Homo sapiens: one gene and its partners. The protein of the gene in region 1 interacts with the protein of each later gene in a pairwise test. Each region holds a gene or a part of one and is shown on either strand. Other genes may lie near its edges.

Region 1 (4,894 bases):
GGGCCTTGCTCTGTCACCCAGGCTAGAGTGCAGTGGTGCGATCATGACTCACTGTAGCCTCGACCCCCAAGTGATCCTCCCACCTCAGCCTCCTGAGTAGCTGGGACCACAAGTGCACCACAACCCCCAGCTGATTTTGTCTTAAGATGGGGTTTCTCTATGTTGCCCAAGCTGGTTTCCAACTCCTGGGCTCAAGCAATCCACCCGCGTCTCACAGGCATAAGCCACAGAGCCCAGACCGAGGCCTCCACTGGCGCGCAGCGGTCCTGCCCAGCCTTGGGGCAGGAGGGGGCACCAGCACCCATGGTACCGCCTCCAGCTGAGTCAAGGCTCTGGGCTCTTCAGGGATCCCCTCTCCAATTCTTCCCAGCCCCCACACCCCGTTCCTTAAGAAGGTCTGGTCTCTTCCCGCTTCCCTGCCAGGCCCTGGCTGCAGTTCTCTCTAAGCACCGCTGCACTGAGACCCAGCCTCACCCCCATATCCCGCAAAGAATAGTCACAGCCATGTTCCTGGGGAGTTGTGAGGATGTTTTTGTTTGGTTGGTTTTGGTTGGGATGTTTTTTTAAGAGCGTCATATAGATATTTATATATATAAATTATTAGTGTGGGGAAGGGGCAAGGGGCATACATTGCAGAGGGGGCGCGCACACAGGGATCGGGGAGGGGCAGGGGTGGCACACGATGCTACGCAAAACAGCCACATCTAACAGATGAAATAATCACACCAACGGGGCAGGGGAGGGGCGGCGGCCACAGGGGTTGGGCATGGGGGAGGAGAAAAGCAGGGGGGACAAGGAAGAGAGACCTGGTCCAAGATTCTGTGCGCTTTCTGTCCCCATCCTCGCCACCTCCCCACCTCTGCACACCACATCGGGCCTTGGCCTTCTGTCTGTCCCTCCCTCCCCCACTCTCTGTCCAGCTGCGGAGGCCCTGCAACTGAGCAGCACCCTCTTGGCTCTGGGTGGCAGGCCAAGGGCACGGTGGGGGGAGGGTGGGGGTGCTCCAAGGTCCAATGTAGGAGCCATGGTGCTCTCTTGATCGCAGGTTCTACAGTGGCTTGTCGCTTTCCTTCTTCAGGTGACTAGGGAAGGGGCAGTGCATAGCAGAGAGGTAAGAGACTTGAGACCAACTCTGACCTTGCCCCCTCTTACCGAAGGGGTTGGGAGAGGAGGGGTTCCCTCCCCCAGGAGCACGGTGCCCAGCCGTACCATGCCCACAGCTCCTCCCAGGCTCGCTGAGCCCATGTCCCCTGGGCTGGGGCACCCTAGGGTACCTGTAGTAGTCCTCCTGGGCAGGCAGCGGCACACTGTGCAGCGGGTGATGGGCATGCAGCCACTGCTGCTGTTCCAGCGCCAAGCGCTGCAGCTCAGCTGACTGTGCGTGCATGGCCTGCAGCTGATGAGCTGCTGACATCGGGGCAGAAAGGGAGGCCGGCAGGTCCCGGTAAGGGGCAGCTGTGAGCAGGAAGGGCAAGGGGCATATGACCAACGGATAACAAGTACCTGCTCTGGACCAGGGGATAGCCAGCTCCTTTACATACAAAGGTAATGAACTAAAAAGTGAGGTAACACACCCAGTTCTGTAAGTTGCCAGTGGTAGGGTGGAATTGGGATTCGAACCTCTTAGGCTGACACTAAAACTCGTGCTTCTCTTGGGCAGAGCTCCAGCTCTCCTATTCCCATGCCCAGCTCCTCTAGGCACCTCCTCATCCCTCCCCAAGCCCAACTAGGCCCATCCCCCCACCCAAATACCTCCTTTCTGCCCTTTTCTCATTGGAGCTGCCTACCCCAACTTCCATCCTTACCAAAGAGCTGGTGACGAAGAACTTCGTTCTCGTGCAGAGGGTGAGGAAGCAGGGGGTTAGGGAGAGTTCCAGCTGGGTAGGGGATCCGGGTAAGGTGAGACCCTGAGGCCAGGGGGTCAATGAGAGGGTGCACCGAGGCAGAGGCTGGAGGGCAGAGAAGAGGAAGGTGTCACCAGAAGGCAGGTTTGGGGCAAACCATGCATTTGGGTGAAGGGATCCAAGCCTGGGAACTGAGTCAGACAAACACAAGGAGGTCCAAAGTGGAACAAAGGCAGAGTGGAAGAACTAGAGGCCTGGCAGGGGTGGACAGGCTGAGCCCTACTGGAGGAGGGACATATGGATGACACAGGACAGGAGATTACAGTCATCAGAAGGGTCTGAGGGGAAGGACAGAGAGAGGTAGACTGCGTGAAGAAGGTGGAAGATGATAGAAGTTTAGAAAATAAGACAAGAAGAGGCCGGGCACAGTGGCTCAAGCCTATAATCTCAGCACTTTGGGAGGCTGAGGCAGGCAGCTCACCTGAGGTGAGGAGTTCAAGACCAGCCTGGCCAAGATGGTGAAACCCTGTTTCTACAAAAAATACAAAAAAATTAGCCAGGCAGGGTGGCACACGCCTATAGTCCCAGCTCCTCGGGAGGCTGAGGCAGGAGAATCGCTTGAACCTGGGAGGTGGAAGCTGCAGTGAGCCGAGATCGCGCCACTGCACTCCAGTCTGGGCAAAAGAAAAAAAGGAAGCCGGGTGCGGTGGCTCACGCTTGTAATTCCAGCACTTTGGGAGGCCAAGGCGGGTGGATCACAAGGTCAAGAGATCAAGACTATCCTGGCCAACATGGTGAAACCCCGTGTCTACTAAAAATACAAAAATTAGCTGTACTTGGTGGCACACGCCTGCAGTCCCAGCTACTCGGGCAGGCAGTGCCTGCTGAGGCAGAAGAATCACTTGAACCCCAGAGGCGGAGGTTGCAGTAAGCCGAGATCGCGCCACTGCACTCCAGCTTGGTGACAGGGCGAGACTCCGTCTCAAAAACCAAAAAATGGTGAAAGGATAGTAAGTAAAGCTCATTATCGCCTATGACACCCAAACCCAAAGCTACAGGGCCCTTTCTAGAAAGTTACAGATCTAGAGATGGGGAAAAACATGAAAGACCTCGCAGAGGGAGAAGAGGAGAAAATGGCAAAAAATGAGTTGAATCCAGAGAAATCAGAAGATAGGTTTGTGGGTTGGGCACGGTGGCTCACGCCTGTAATCTCAGGACTTTGGGAGGCCGAGGTGGGTGGATCGCTTTGAGCTCAGGAATTTGAGACCAGCCATGGCCAACATGGCGAAACCCCGTCTCTACCAAAAATACAAAAAGTAGCCAGGTATGGTGACACACGCCTGTAATCCCAGCTACTCCAGAGGCTGAGGTAGGAGGATCACTTGAGACCGGGAAGTCGAGGCTGCAGTGAGCTGTGATTGCGCCACTACACTCCAGCCTGGGTGGCAGAGCCAGACCATGTCTCAAAAAAATAAATAAGAAGACAGGTTTGTGAAGGGCTTGGGAGAATGGGGCTGTGAGAATAGAAAAGTGTCCTTCAAAAGCTCCCGTGTGGGCCTCTGTCATGGGAAGGATACTAGACTATGGAGAGAACTGGGCTGTGGGGCATACAGGCTTTGTGGCCAGGGAAGGCCATGAGAAGACAAGGCTGAGAGAACGTCAGGGAGGCAAAGTTCAGGGCAGCAATCTCAGGAAAGGTTCATGCCAGGCCAGGGGAGGAAAGTCTTGGCCATAGGAATGAAAGAGCCCAGTCATGATAGGGGGAAGGTGGCCCCAAAGGGCCAGGGCAAGGAAGGAGGGGTCTCACCTGCATGGATAGCATCTTGCTGGTGCAGGTGCAGGTGCGAGTGGATGTGGGAGTGCTGGTGGTGATGGGGAGTCACATTGAGCATCTGCAGCCGGGCCAGTGGGTCATTGCCCAGGGCCGCCACCCTTTCTGCGTGCTGCCTCTCAGCTGCCAGCCGCTCAGCATAGGACATGTCAGGCCGCAGGGCTGGCCCAGCTGCCAGCGCTAGACGTTCTCGCTCCAGGGGCCCCAGGCTCGGATGAAAGGGGAAAGGGTGCAGGCCAGGTGGGCCAGGCTGCAGAGCCAGGCCCCCATGTCGGGGAAAGGGATCCAAGCCCGGCCCAGGGACCCCATGTAGGGGTTCCAGCTCACTAGGCTTCACCTCAAAGCCAGGCTTGAGGCGGTCACGGAGGTCTCGTTCACGGGCTTCCCGTTCCCTCTCCCGGGCAGCTGGATCACTGCTGTACAGGGCCGGGACATTGTAACCCAGGAGCCCCGGGTCCACTGCCCCCAGGGGCACGTAGAATGGATGGTTGCGATTGCCAGGAGACATGACATGAGGCCGGGCATATTCACTGAGAGTGCGCAAGGCTGGAGTGTCAGGACCCAGGTAGGGGGGCACTGTAGCCACCGCACTGCCCGGTTCAAATGGAGGGCGATGGGGCACTGGGCCCAGAGATGGGCATTCCACCGGAGCACGGCCCTCCTGAGCCAACTTCTGTGGGATACAGGGAAAAGTGGAGTCAAAGCGGCAGTTATGAAAAGAGGTGGCTGGTTTTAAGCTGCCCATTTGTTTCGACAGCCGAATGCCAAAATGCCTCAACTCATTGAAACTCTGCCCACCTGGAACTTAACTGCGGCCCCCGCTCCCGAATATTTGCCCTTCTTGGGATCCACAGGTAGTCCCATCTGAGCATGCCTTTTCCCAACCCAGGAATGCAGATGGCTCTCGCTGAAAACCTTTTGGGCTCCATTTCCTGGGCTGCAGTGGTACCTCCCCTCCGACAGGTGGCGACGTGACTCGCCCGCCCACCCAGCCACAGCCCCGCAGCGTAGCGTAGCGCAGCGCAGCGCAGAGGGAAGGAAGGAAAGAGGGAAAGAAGGCGGTGGCGCAGGCAGTGACGCACTCACCACGCTGCGTTCAAGCTCGCGCTCCTTCTCGCGCTCGCGCTCTTTCTCGCGTTCCCGCTCGCGCTCGCGCTCCTTTTCTTCGCGCGCGCGCTGCTCGGCCTCGCGCCGCACCTTCTCCACCAGGTCGGCCCGC
Region 2 (7,370 bases), on another chromosome or scaffold:
ACTAGTATTTGAATTTCATTTTTGTCTCTGATGAACAATTTCACTGGGAGAAAGAATTGGCTTATATTCTATTGTGAAAGATGTAAAGTGGATAGAAATACTGTAATTTGACAGTGTATGACTTTTATTACGAACAATGAAAACATTAGTGACATCTATAATGACTGGGTTATACAACTACACAAACGTACACCAAATTAAATAACTCCTTTCCGCAAGACTATGACAATTTTATTAGGGCAACAACCTCACGTACTTACCACAATTGCCATTCAATCAGATAATATCATTTTCAATCCACAATATAACATAAAACCCACATATACAGTATATGTAGTTTTTCACATGCCCATCGGCCGCTCTGGGTACACACACAGGCACAGAGCAGTATCAACTAGTCCTTTAAAAATCATGTTTAAGAATGAAACACTAGGCTCAAAAGGAAAAAAGAAAAGGAAACGAGACATGTATGCTACTTCATCTATTGCTTTTGAAAGAAATTTTATATTAAAACAATGCAGTGGGCATAACGGTGTGTTCAAAGTGCTCTCGGAAAGTTCCCTGAATGTGAATAAGGTGAAACTAAAGCAATATTGCTAAAGACTAATCACAGTATTCAATCAACTTGAGCCGTATAGACCTTGCCAGTCCTCCTGCAACACTGACTTGTGATTAGTGTAATCAAAGGCCTCCCAAATTTCAACACTTAACTCCGAATGTAATCGTCTTCCTTCAAGCCCTGAGCCCTTGGAACCCACAGATCAGTAATGATGCCACTTAACATTTTTCCCCAACAACAGTAGGAACATTCTCCGTATGGCAACCATATGCTAATAAAAGACATTTGAGGGCAGTTTAAAGCATCTAGTTCGTATTTGAGGATACTCGCCCCTATATATCACACGTCTCGTAGCAGAAATCCCCAAAATAATGACAGGTTCACCGCCATAACTTGATATGAGTCACAGCAAACACTTCTCCATGGGATTTTAGAAGTGGTGCAGCCCCGAAGCCTTGTCATTATGTAGGTGAATGACCAGCAGCAGAGACCAGCTGGACTGCCCTCGGTAGCTTCAGCCCCTGATGAAGTATGCACAATGAGATAACTCCTAGGGAGTTTCAGCACCTCCTTGTTTTCATGGAAGTCACTGCAGAAAATCCCAAGACTCTTAAATATTGGTCACATAGTTCTTAAAAGTGAAAATTTACACCTGTCAGGCCTAATACTATGCTGACAACATTCTCTGTTTTCTAAATCAACATATTTGCTTGAGCACAGTAAAAATACATCTTAATAACACCTGCCAGAGCTAAGGCGAATCAGATCAGCTCAAATGAGGCACACAAGAAAAGAAAAGAAAAAAAAACACCTTGGAAACACAACCTGCCCCTCTATCTCTCATCTCCCACACCCTTCATACCCCCACGGTTACAGCAAAATACAACTTTGGGCATTTTGGAAGTAACTGTTATTTGTGACACACACACACACACCCCAAAAATTCCCAAGTCTGTTTTCCTACCACAAACACCAGGGAGGCTGCATCACCTTTCTAGTGACTTAATTCTGAAAGCAGAGGCTCAACCTGCCGAGTGGCAATCGAAGAAAACACACTACACACCAGAATAAGATGAGGGTCGGGAAAAAAAGAAAAAAGCAGCTTCGCTTTCAGCCATTAATTACGGATCACCCCAATTTTGCATCGCTCATCTCCCATACACACGCACAGCCTTCCAAACCTGGCTTTCAGGCGGCGCTTTCTGGAGCCTGGCTGTCTATTGTCAGCACGCAGAAGCCCCCGAAACCTGTGAAGCCGGCTGCAAAGGCTTGCTGGGAAGCCGCTAAATATAGACCAAGGGGGCTCAGGGTCTGGCAAGCCGCGGGAGCCTGAAGACACGGCCATGGACGCATATGACTAAGTCTTTCCATTTTGTTCTAGCCAAACATCGTAATGACATTGAACATAAGGGCAAAAGACTGGAGGGAAGTCCTCCCCACCCCCACCCCGTCTCCTCCCGTATATTAGGGACGTCATGAATGCACCGAGTATGTTCTCAGGGTGGCGGGGAGCAGCATTGTCGGTGTTGCCCTAAATACGCTTCCTCCCGGGGAGATGGGTGGCAGGGAGGGGGAGCACGCAGGGCAGCCACTTGGTAACCGCTCCAAGAAAGGCACTAACCCCGGACCCCCTTCCAGGCACAGCGGCTTCCGAGGGGGACCTGGCGCGATCGCGGTCCTCCCCGAGGCAGGCAGAAACCCCGCAGCAGCCGCCGCCGCCGCCTGCCGGCCGGGAGCCCAGGACCACCCCCACCAGCGGCAAGAGGAGGAGGACGGCGCCGGGAGGAGGCTGCGCCCGGCCCCGGCCGCCCAGCCCCGCAACTCACCCAAAGGCGCGGCGCCCGGCGGCTTCCTCGCAAACATGCACCCTCCGCCGGCGACAGCTCCTCAGTCCGGGAAGAGGCGTGCGCGGCGCCGCCCGGCTTCAGGGCAAGGTCCTGACCTTGCCCAACTGCAGCATCTTCCGCTTTTGTTGTCTGAGCGCGGCCGCGGGACAAGGGATGCTGGCGGGCGGCAGGGGCGAGCGCCGCGGGCGAGAGGCGGCTCCCGACGCGAGTGCGCAGCGCCCGGCCCGGCGGCCCCTCCGAGCTCGGCGAGCGCAGCGCCCCCTGCCCGGCTCCGCGGGCTCCACGGGCTCCTGCGGGCTCCTCGGGGCTCCGGGCGCCGCCGCCAGCCGGCCGGGCTGAGAGAGCAGCCGCCGCGCCCGCAGCTCCGCTCAGCCGGCTGTCGCCGCGGGCGCGAGCCTGGGGCCGCCGCGGCGCCCGGCGCCGAGCGCTCCCGAGCTGCGCCCCGCGCGCGGCCCGCGCCACCTGTGCCGCCGCCGCCTCAGCCGCCGAGGGCGAGGCTCCTCCCGCGGCGCGCGGCAGCCTCAGCCTCCACCTAAACCTCGGCGGCCGGCCCGGGCGCCCGGCTAGTGAGGGAGCGTCCGCCCCGCCGCCGAAACCGGCCCCGGGTGCGGAGCATGCCCAGTGCCGCCGCGAGAGCGGCGCTTCGCCGCGCGCGTTCCACTTCTCCTGGTTTTCGCGGCAGCAGCGGCAGCCGCGGGAGAGAGGGGAGGAGGCCGCGGGTTGGGAGAGGGCCGAGCATCCTTGGGAACGCACGCCCTGGACCTGAGATGGGTGGATGCTCCGGAGCTAGGCGAAAGCTGGAAGGGACCCGGGAAGGGATGGAACCCCAGGTTACTCCGCTTCCCTAATTCACGTGCAAGGCGCTGACAGTTGACTCTGGTGGGGCAGATGTCAGCCTGCAACAAAGGACCAGGGTGCGAGGGGTCCTAGAGTGGCCAGGTGGGTTGGGGGAGGGAGGCTGGCGGAACGTGCTGGTGAGCGCAGGTAGATGCTCTTGCAGATCCTGTGATTCCAGAGCTAAGGAGGCACGAAGTCCAGCAGAGGTCTTCTCCACAGCACCTGCCCAATCTTGCCATCACCTTCCCTGTTCAGATGGCATGTTTTTGGCGGGTAGTGAGGGTTTCTCCTTAGGCAAAATCACTTCAGATTTGAAACTGGAATGTCTGTAAACTTCCTGCAAGAAAGACCCTTGCCCAGTCTGGAACTTGAGCAGATTAAGTTCTCTCTCCTCCCCTTCTTGTGCCACCTTGTCCTCCTCTCTTGGTATCTTCTGCTGCATCTCTGCCACCTTCTCTTCCTCCTTTTCTTCCTTATTTCAAAGTGAACCACTCCCCTGATCCTTCCCCACAGTCTTCCAGTGCATCTCGCATTGCCTTCTTCACGTTCAAATCAGTTTTCCATATCACCTCCTGGCTTGACTGCTCCTTGACCCCATCGGGACTTCCCCATGCGTAGCCTGCTGTGAAATACAGCAAGTGGAATCACCGTATTCAAAGTCTTGTTGAAAAACGAAACCCAAAACATGTGCCAAGGAAGGCCTCTGGGCCTTCGCCCCTGTCCCTCTGATTCAGCAGCAGTCAGGACGGGGCTCACGTCTGCTGCATTCACAAGCCAAGCCAAGCAGGGCACAGCCTGCCCAGGGGCCAGGTCGAATGTTCCTCCTAATTATGCCACGGGCATGACCCTGAACACCGCAGACTGTCTGAGGTTGTGATCTCCTCCACCCCCCCCACCCCCCCCACCCCCGCAGAGCTTGTTTCTGAAACACAAATAAGCATGACAGAATGCAGGAAATTGTAATAAAAGGGATTTGGTGCTTACGATTCTCAGTAACATTGTGCTTCTATTTTGTGTTGAAAGAGATTATCCAACAAACTTAAATGATTTGAATATTCAAGTCTATTCTTTATTATACTTGGGAGTAAGTTGAAATATAAATGGAAGTAAGAGTGAAGGAGAAAAGCGGTACAGAGGTTAAATAGGTAACAAATAATTGCTAGGAGGAGCAGATTAAGCAGACTATTGACAACAGTACAAATGTTCGCTTTTATTCCTCCTACCCCAGGTGTGGACATGCACACACAGGCTTTGTCTCACCTGCAAAAAACAGTTCTCCAAGCTAACTCCAAGTGTCTTAAAGCCAGTTTGATATTAAAATATCCTGAGTCCTGTGAGGGAAGACATGCAAGACCATTTTTTTCATCACACGTTTAATTGTAATTTTTATCTTAGTTCTCAGAAAGGCAGTTCAATTACACTGAGTACGTGGTACAAGACAAATTAGCAGCACCATATCCATTAGGCCACATTATATTTCAAGAGATGTTCTTAGTTCCCACCTGAGCTTCTGTCAGTCTGCTATCGTTTGGTTTTCTCTTTGCATCTTCTAACTCAAGAAGTCAGTGGGGAGGTGGAAAGGGAGATGAGGGGACATCAGTTACTCTTTAGATTAAAATGGAGGTAGATGTGTAGATGCTATCCACAGGTAATATATGTGTCTTTTATGCCTGATATAGATCTAAGTAAAGAAAATAATTTTCTAACGTTTTTTAGTTACTATCGAGATGAGCAATGACAAATTCTATCAACTAATTGTGTGTCTGGGAAATGAGCTGGAGGCAGTCCCTACAGATACTGTTGGGGCTGGGGCTGGTGTGATATGGTTATTTAGGAAGCAGAGTGGTAAAGTCCAATGTCCTGGACTGCTTTGATTTCATTTGCTCAGTGCCCCATTTCATTGAAACATTTATGACTTTTATTATTCTAGAATAATTTGTAACTTAAGATATTATTCAATTCACAATTAGATAATATTGAAAAATAAAGCAAAATGAACATGTATAATGTTAGATCTTGGAACGACTCACTGCTGCCATCTTTTGCCTCCTGCTTCCGATAGTTCCTATATAAAGGAATATTCTGAATCCTCAAATTCACTATGAGACTAGAACATTATTAGTTTATTATTTTCAAATTACAGTACTCAATGCTCAGTGAAAAACCTTCATTGTATTTCTTCTGTTTATGCATTAATAGAGTTATCTGATACAGAAATCACATATAAATACTAAATGCTATATCTCTTGATTTTTCAAATCACTTTTCAAAATTTGAAGCAAACGTTTTTATATGGAAGTGTAACTTAACTTTAGAAATAAAATCTAACAATTCCAAATATTTTTTATAAATGTATGTGTCTTATTTTGTAATTCAAAGTATGTCGATTTTAGGAGAATGGCATTCTTATTTAAGTCACAGCTGTTTCAATATGGCATTGTTTGTTGCTATTGAGATTCAAATAGAAGATAATATTTTTGTAATTTTTTAAGTGAATTACCCATTGATAAACAATTGAGAAATTTTCAAATTGGGAAATGAAATCAGGTGAGTGATTATTGTTGCTGTTCAGCATTTAAATAGGGAGAGTAATGATACTTCTTTCAATTCACAATTTAAATTTTAAAGCAAATTACCTGAAATAGTAACCCAATAGTGTCATCATAAGTACATGTGTGTATATATTTGGGAGGCTAACACACACTGTTTGCTCTTGATCATAAAAGTTATGATATTTGTTACCTGAAAGTATCTCTAAGTTTTTGAAGACTGTAAAGTAGTTAACTAATTTAAACTAACCATTTTAGTTAAGATCAACGTGTGGGTCATTTCACTATTTGATTGCAAACTTCACATTTTCACTCAAATTGCCTTTTATTATTGCTGCAACTCCTATGATGGTATCATTCATTCATTCAGCAAATGTTTATTGAGCATCCATCCGCTGTGGTTCAGTATTGGCCAAAATTTGGAGAATTAGTAGCAAACAATAGAGAAGACAACAAATTCCTTATCCTCCCAGAGTTTAATTATGAATTGGGGTTATGGGGGAAGCAGAAATTGAAGCACTGCAGAGAGGTAATCACCACCAGAAGCTGAAATGAGGAACACAAATGTCCTCATTTCTTCCTAATTGTCTGTGTGCCTCAGTGTATTGGCTTCCTGTTATGGGAGGAAAGTTCATCTATATTGGATTAAGCCGTGGTGGTTGGATTCTGTTACCTGCATCAAATTCAAGCTCAAATTGAAATATATGTTATCTGTAATGTCTCCCCTCTGCTCACTATAGCTGTTATTACTGTATTTCCCCCACAATGTATTTCCAAAAATTAAAACATTTTTTCAACAAAGTGAGTAAATGAATATGGTCTAAATCATATGTATTAGAAGATAAATTAAGGAATAATATAAGACCAGTTTTTTATTGTCACTGACCAATAAATTCATGTTCAAAGCATTGCACAATGAGTCCACCTCAACGATTTTTATACTGTCTCCCAAAATGAAATACCTCATTTTCAGTCTTTGTTCTCCTTAATGTTCTCTACCCACTCCAGTGTCACTCTCAAGTTTGTACAGAATACACGTTCTGAAATTGATTTACTCATTAAAATGAAATCCTTGAAGCTCTCATTTTATTACCCATAAATAAGCCAAATCTTGCCTCTTGCTTTGTTGTGAAAATTAAATGAATGAATCAGTCTATGATAAGCAAATGGCTCTATGCCTGGCAAATAGGGAGCAATTAGTAAATGATGGTGAACATGAGTCATGACATTAGAATATCTCTTTCACCTCTGCTGTTTTCGTCGGCTTGCTATATCAAAACACACTTATTATCTGATTGCGCATATCTTATTCAGTCATCAAGACACCTAGAAGATACCATTTTGCCAGTGAGCTTTTTCATATTCATTTCTTTCAAATAATCATTAACTAAATTTCTCCTACATGCAGGTAATTATATCATGCAGACTAATCATGAGAATTTACAGGGATCTCCATTTGGTAAACTGGTTGTGTTTCATGCTTTCACTGAATTTTTAGGAATTTGAAAATACATCACATTCAGATTACAGAGTCAGGTAGCTTACCTTTTTGTCATATTTCATCATGTCTATATATTT
Region 3 (7,031 bases), on another chromosome or scaffold:
GCAATGTGTAAGGTAAGTGGCATCATCTTCCTTCCACTAATGGTAGAACTGAAGATCAGAGAGAGTGTCTAACTTGCTTAGGGCTACATAGCCAAGTGGTGAAGCTAAACTCAGTCTAGGCTTACTTAATAGTACACTGACATTAAATGTCTAGAAGTAAATACCTAAAACAAATTGCAAGTCTTCTCTATTTACCATACAAATTATTCAAGTGAACTGCCATTTTTGCCTGGCTTGAAAGATACTTTTCAGAAGAATGGGCTCGTATCCACATAATAGCCTCATAGTCCTCTTCCATATTAAAGATGGTGTCCATTCAGCTGTTTACTCAACAACTATCTGCATAAGCAATTCTCATCACTATTAAAAGAATTTGTTTGTTTACTAAGAAAATTCAGTCTCCTCTTGGAGAATTTAGCCTGGGAAGACAGTGTTGAAAACTACAAAGTTCCTAAGCAAGGACAAATGATACTATTATACAGATTATACAAATTGCCAAGGAAATAGAAAAGCAAGGAGGTGATTAATGTTGGTGCCAGCATATTAGAGGAGACAGAACTCTGTGCTGGTTCTTGAAGGAAGTGATGACCTTGGTTGGATTGATCTAGAAAGGCTGAAGAGGCACCTGAGTCAGAGAGTGGCATAATCAAAAGCTAGAGCTGAAAGCACCTGAGACCAATCCAGGTGGTGATAAGGTCAGATCAGCTGGAACTGGGTAGTGGGAAGAACCCAGAGATGGTGATGATGAGAGATCTGCAGGTCACTGTGAGGTCTCAGAGAGAGGAGCAACATAACCAAGAGCACAAGAAAGATCATGGGGTCTGTATGCAGCATGTAGAGATGCGGGGCCTTGCCTACTCATGGGCCAGCAAAAGCCTTTCTTAGTAGACATGGTAGAAATGGACACAAAGTCAGCAGAGATGGAAGGAAAATAAGTGGAGCATTCAGCACTGATGTTAAAGTTGGAATCCTGGGTTTCGAAAAAGGTAGTGGTACCTTTAACACTGTTTGGGAAACAAGAAAAAAATTAGTCTGAGAGACAAAGTGAATTTAGTTCTCGCTCCAGTAAGTTTCAGACATCAGTAAAATATCTAAATGGATCTCTGGGCTTCCATTCAGCTATTTCCTTGTCAAGCATCCATTGTGTACATAAGCAGCTCTCAGTTATATTAAAAGAATTTAAGTTTATTTGTTTGTTTACTCCACTTTTGCTCAATCCTTCCTTGGGCTTCTTCCTTACAGTGACTTTCTCAAATGAGCGTCTGATCAGATTGTTTCCTGAGCTTAAAAATTCTTCAGAGGCCTCTTATCGCCTGTAGCAACATTTCTCAAGAAGTAGTTCCTAGACAACCTGTATGGGAATCGCCTGGGATACTTGCTAAGAATTTAGATTCCAGGCCCCCTACCCAGACCTACAGAATCAAATCCTTTGGGTGGGCCCAGGAATCTTCATTTTAACAAGAACCCTGAATGATCCTTAGACACAATAAAGCTTGAGATTCACTGACCTTCAGGGTAGAATTCAGGCTTCCATTCCTAAAGAAAGGCTTTCTTGTTTTGGCCCTGCCTACCTCTGTAACCTCATCCTCCACCTACCCAGAACTCCTTGCAGCTCCTTCCCTTTTCAAAAATTTTATGCCTTTGTCACAATAGCCTCTCTTCCTAGAATTCCCACATTCACCTGGAAAAATCCTGCTCATCCTGTAAAGCCTGATTTACTGTCACCTCCTCTGTCAAGTCTTCCCTTCTGCCCTGCCATGCTCACCCATGCCCCCGGGCAGAGTCCATTACTCCTTCCTGCATACACTTGTAGAAGGCACCTGCCATCTTGCTGCAACTTGTCTACCTATCTGTCTCCTCTTCTGGTCTTTGAGCTGCTTGAGGACAGGGACAAAGTCTGCATCATCTTTGCATCCCCAGGCCCTAAAACTGCCTGGTTTCAGAAGGTGATCCATAGGCTGTTTGTTCAGTGGGTGAACTAGAGAGGAGATTGAAGCTGGGAACTGCTAGGAGGAACACCTCTGTTCCTTAGGAGCTGAAGCTAGGGAGCAGGTCAGGGTGTGAGATGGAGGTGCTTGAATGCTGTAAGAGGATTTAGAGAGAGAGAGAAGAGTCCAGGGCTGGTTGGGGGTGGGGGCGGGGGAGAGGGCGAGGAAAGAGAGAGAATTTGGTCTTTTTTTTTTTTAACATTTCCAATGTGGGAAAAAAGGCAAATTAATAAAGAGCAGTCAGAGAAGTTGGAGAAGATTAGTCTCAAAACAGAAAAGAAGATGGTACTGGGCAACTGTACCAAAAAGAACAGAAGAGTTTAGGCAGCTGATGGTTGAGAATGGACCCCCGAAGCTGTCCAATGCACAGACTTGTCTTTTGAAAAAAAAGCGATAGAATGTTAAACCACCCATCTCATCATATATCTAGGACTTTAGCACAAGGATTGTTGCCATAAGAATGAAGCTTTTAGAGTGATTTCTTAGGGAATGGACACACCAATTAACTGTCTCCTGGCCCCACCTTTGATGTTTTCTTCACAGCAATGCACTGACGGATATGAGTGGGATCCTGTGAGACAGCAATGCAAAGGTGAGCCAGCTTCAAAGACTTCCATGTGATCATTGCCTTCTGTCTCCATCTCTTGTGTCACTCTTCCTGTCCTGTCTGTGTTATACCAAAAAGGCATGAGCATTATATTTACATGTTTGATTTTTCCCTCTTAGAAGATTCCTGACTTATTTTATTACTGACCACAGATATTGATGAATGTGACATTGTCCCAGACGCTTGTAAAGGTGGAATGAAGTGTGTCAACCACTATGGAGGATACCTCTGCCTTCCGAAAACAGCCCAGATTATTGTCAATAATGAACAGCCTCAGCAGGAAACACAACCAGCAGAAGGAACCTCAGGGGCAACCACCGGGGTTGTAGCTGCCAGCAGCATGGCAACCAGTGGAGTGTTGCCCGGGGGTGGTTTTGTGGCCAGTGCTGCTGCAGTCGCAGGCCCTGAAATGCAGACTGGCCGAAATAACTTTGTCATCCGGCGGAACCCAGCTGACCCTCAGCGCATTCCCTCCAACCCTTCCCACCGTATCCAGTGTGCAGCAGGCTACGAGCAAAGTGAACACAACGTGTGCCAAGGTAGGAATAACTTATTTTCCTAACCATTGAAAGCTTTTGCCCAAGTGCACCTCGTGGTGAGGATGATGATAATTTATTAAGGACTTCTCGCGTGCCAGACATCATGCTAAGTGCTTTGTCTGCATTATATTTAATCATCACAATATTCCTAAAGGGTAGTTGCTGTAGTTGTCATCATTGCTTTACAAATGGGAAACTGTGGCTTAGAAAGTTCATCAGTGGTTCCCAACCCTAGCTGCCCATATTTAGAGTCACTTGGGAACCTTTAAAACTTCTCGATGGCGAAGCTACACCCCAGCCCAGTTAAATCACAGTCTCTGAGGTGGGTTCCAGGCATCGGCTTTTTTTTCAGTTCCTCATGTGCGGCCAAGTTTGAGAACCAGAGGTCACACAGGTGCTAAGTGCAGAGCTGACCTTCCAACCCAGGAAGGCGGGTGCCAAAGTCACAGCTGGCAAAAGTCACCATCAGGTTATTCACTGGGAATTTGAAATTATGCTGTCAAGCTACTCTACAGATGTACCCCTTTGGTTTCTCAAGTTTCTTTTCATCGAACTTGCCACAGACTTATTTTCCTCATTCAGGAGTAAAGAAATGGGGCTCCTGCTTCTCATTACCTTGGAGGGATTCTCCCCCACTCACGTTTATATCTCTTTTAAGCTCTCATTTGACGACGTTTCACTTATATCACTTGCACCATGGCATCATCTGCCTAGGGTTTTCTGTTTATTTTCACAGAGCATACACATCACTGTGTATTCTAGAAACAGCTGTAGGCTCGTATTAGCAAAGTGATAAGAATCTGGGGCTTTGAAGACATGTAGGATATTAGCTAACTGAACTGTGCTATGAGATTGTTTCCCTTTCTTCTTGGCAAACCATTTCAGAGCAGCCTGGTGTGGAGACTGTGTTACTGAAATGGGGCCATAGGAGCCTCCAGACTCCTTTCTCCCTGCCAGAGGCTGATTAGGTAGATCCCATAGTGCAGAACTCCATGTCACCACCACATACGTGTATGGCACACGTGGGCCAATGGAAAGGGTCCAGGAGTTCTTACTTTCTAACTGGTCATGTGTAAGGAAGAGAGCACCTTCCTCCCTTAACACCAAGGGTTTCAATAGAGACCACTGAGCTGCTACATTAAATGAAAGATGCATTTTCTTGTGCCCTGGGATGCTGCCCCTTATTCACCCGTGTTTAGTTTTATCTTCTGTGTAAAAGATACTCGAGTTTAAATGGCTTAAAAATGAAGCAAGGGGCTGGGCACGGTGGCTCACGCCTGTAATCCCAGCACTTTGGGAAGATGAGGCGGGTGGATCACCTGAGGTCGGGAGTTCAAGACCAGCCTGGCCAACATGGCGAAACCCCATCTCTACTAAAAATACAAAAATTCTCTATGAATGGTGGCACATGCCTGTAGTCTCAAATACTAGAGAGGCTGAAGCAGGAGAATTGCTTGAACCTGGGAGGTGAAGGTTGCAGTGAGCCGAGATCATGCTACTGCACTCCAGCCTGGGCAACAGAGTGAGACTCTGTCTCAAAAAAAAAAAAAAAAAAAATGAAGGAAACTTGTCATGCTCTGACTCTTATTTATTTCATATTTTGTTTGTAAGCTTTAAGTACCCCACATCAAGACCTAACCCATGTTGTGATGGTGTCACTTTTCAGAGGGTGCATCGTATTAGCATCTGTTTCGTGTTACTGTCATGAGTCAGAATTCCAGTATTGATGATGAATGCTTCAGCATCTGCTTGATATTCTGATATTGAATTTAAGGATTATGTCAAGGAGATAAAATGATGAGGTTATTCTTATACATGTATTTGGGTTAATACTGATAAAAAAAATCTTGAGTTTATTTAAGATAGACCAACTTTTAATTGTGTTATTTAGTTATATAACTAGACTGGAAAGTTTGGTAGTATTTTTCCCAAAATCAAAAAATTTTGCTGAAAAATTCTTAAGTATCAACTTTTATATACTGAATTATTTTGAATACTTTAGATGTGTACTTTAATGGTACTTGGGAGAAAAAAAAACCAGATAAATGAATGAGTCATTTCCCAAAGTAGTTTGTAGACCGTCATTGACATTTATGGTTGAATTCAAGAACAATGCCCAGAACTAAATGAAGAGGTCCTAGAATAAAATATATTCAAGACTTACAACATGTATTGGTTACGGTAGAAACTGTACTGTGATTAATGAAAATAAAATCCTATTTAACTTTTCTAGAAAATATTTAGACTACCTAACAAAGTAAGTTACGTTTCACATAGTAAAACATTTATAGTTCTTTCTTCTTTGGGAATTTTTTTTAGTTATAAGCAGACTATTAAGTGCCTTGCTTATGGAATATGCTAAATACATACCTGTTGACTGTGTGCACACAGGTTATTTCCAACCCAAATTGATCTGTGTAATTCAGCCAGTTTCTAAAATTTGGGATTGGTGTCTATACCATTGAAAGCAGGGTTAAAAGTTTTTTGGAAGGCTTAGGGCTTAAGTTGGATTTCTTCCCACCTCACAATTTTGCAAAGTGCCCATAAATGTGGATTTACTTAATTGTTGATAAAAGGGGGTTATTTCATATGATAACAACAGGATAATCTGTCTAGGGAATTTGACTAACATAAGTCGAGTCACACTTGTGCCCATTTCTTATTGAGCTAATCAAACATGCAGTCCAGCTTCTTCTAATTGCCTGCAGATGTATGACATTCTCATTCCAGGCCAGCAGCACAAAATAATATTTTATAACCAATGTGGAAGTATGGGGACCTCTGTTTAGAACAATAATGTGCTCTAAGGACCTATATTATTGACATCATCATGGAGTTTGAAGAGTCTTCTGTTTTAATAAAGATCTCCACTCCCTTTTAAATGTTGCATATTTATGCCCAGTAATCCAGACACATTTCCTATGGTCTACTGGATAGAATAAATGAATCTTACAGATGAGTCTTATTTGCATAAAAATTATTTCTTTTTTCTATGTATATTTTTTAGCAGGTATAGTTTATCATTATATAACCTAAAACTCAGGACATTTTAAATGTAAGAACTGAAATCTGTACTGTGTTTCAGTCTTCAAATCAATTGTGCCTTTGAATGCACTATACCAGTCACAGATGGCTTCTAAATAATTTAAATAATACCACTAGATATTTTAAATGTACACTATTTTATAAATATATCCTTTAAATAGCTGTCCATTTAACTGTTTAATGAAAACATGATATGTTTATTCCCCTTCATGTATTTTTGGGGGTGTTTTCAGTTTTGTACAAAAACAAGGAGTTTGAAATACAACATAACATTCAAAGATCAGGTCACAGTGAGCAGGTTTTTTTCAGGTAATTTTTTGCTAAATGAGGATCATGCTGTGGGAGCCAGTAACGCTGGGAGTTTCCCATGACTGACATTATTCTTGGCATCTATAAAATGAAGATCATTTCAGTGTTACATACCTGGGGCCATGTATAGATAGAGTTTTCGAAATTAATTGTTTCCATTAGATATCATCTGCCTCAAAGACAACAGATACTCATCTACACCAAAAAGAAGTTGAATGAATGGGGAATATATTATAATCTGTTGATGGCTCACTTTAGTTTTCTACACCTTTATTGCATAGTCTCTTTCTCCTTTTTTTTTGAGACAGAGTCTCACGCTGTCACCCAGGCTGGAGTGCAGAGGTGCTATCTTGGCTCACTGCAACTTCCACCTTCTGGGTTTAAGCAATTCTTGTGCCTCAGCCTCCCGAGTAGCTGTGACTACAGGCGTGCACCACCACACCCTGCTAATTTTTGTATTTTTAGTAGAGATGGGGTTTCACCATGTTGGCCAGGCTGGTCTCGAGCTCCTGACCTCAGATGATGTGCCCACCTCAGCCTCCC

Evidence for each region. The genes of interacting proteins can lie anywhere in the genome.
Region 2: the proteins of ATN1 (region 1) and CTNND2 interact in a two-hybrid assay, tested with the Homo sapiens proteins (one study listed by BioGRID).
Region 3: the proteins of ATN1 (region 1) and EFEMP1 interact in binary tests that used the Homo sapiens proteins (3 or more experiments, as listed by UniProt).

Annotation. Positions count from the first base shown.
Region 1 is NC_000012.12:6,937,935-6,942,828, reverse strand, and holds the end of ATN1 (atrophin-1), read right to left. Parts: coding exon 4,762-4,894; intron 4,349-4,761; coding exon 3,652-4,348; intron 1,950-3,651; coding exon 1,806-1,949; intron 1,456-1,805; coding exon 1,275-1,455; intron 1,083-1,274; coding exon 1,049-1,082; 3' UTR 508-1,048; downstream 1-507. UniProt on the Homo sapiens protein: Transcriptional corepressor. Recruits NR2E1 to repress transcription. Promotes vascular smooth cell (VSMC) migration and orientation. Corepressor of MTG8 transcriptional repression.
Region 2 is NC_000005.10:11,901,432-11,908,801, forward strand, and holds the start of CTNND2 (catenin delta-2), read right to left. Parts: upstream 3,016-7,370; 5' UTR 2,423-3,015; coding exon 2,386-2,422; intron 1-2,385. UniProt on the Homo sapiens protein: Has a critical role in neuronal development, particularly in the formation and/or maintenance of dendritic spines and synapses. Involved in the regulation of Wnt signaling.
Region 3 is NC_000002.12:55,913,768-55,920,798, reverse strand, and holds part of EFEMP1 (EGF-containing fibulin-like extracellular matrix protein 1 precursor), read left to right. Parts: intron 1-2,531; coding exon 2,532-2,580; intron 2,581-2,747; coding exon 2,748-3,134; intron 3,135-7,031. UniProt on the Homo sapiens protein: Binds EGFR, the EGF receptor, inducing EGFR autophosphorylation and the activation of downstream signaling pathways. May play a role in cell adhesion and migration. May function as a negative regulator of chondrocyte differentiation.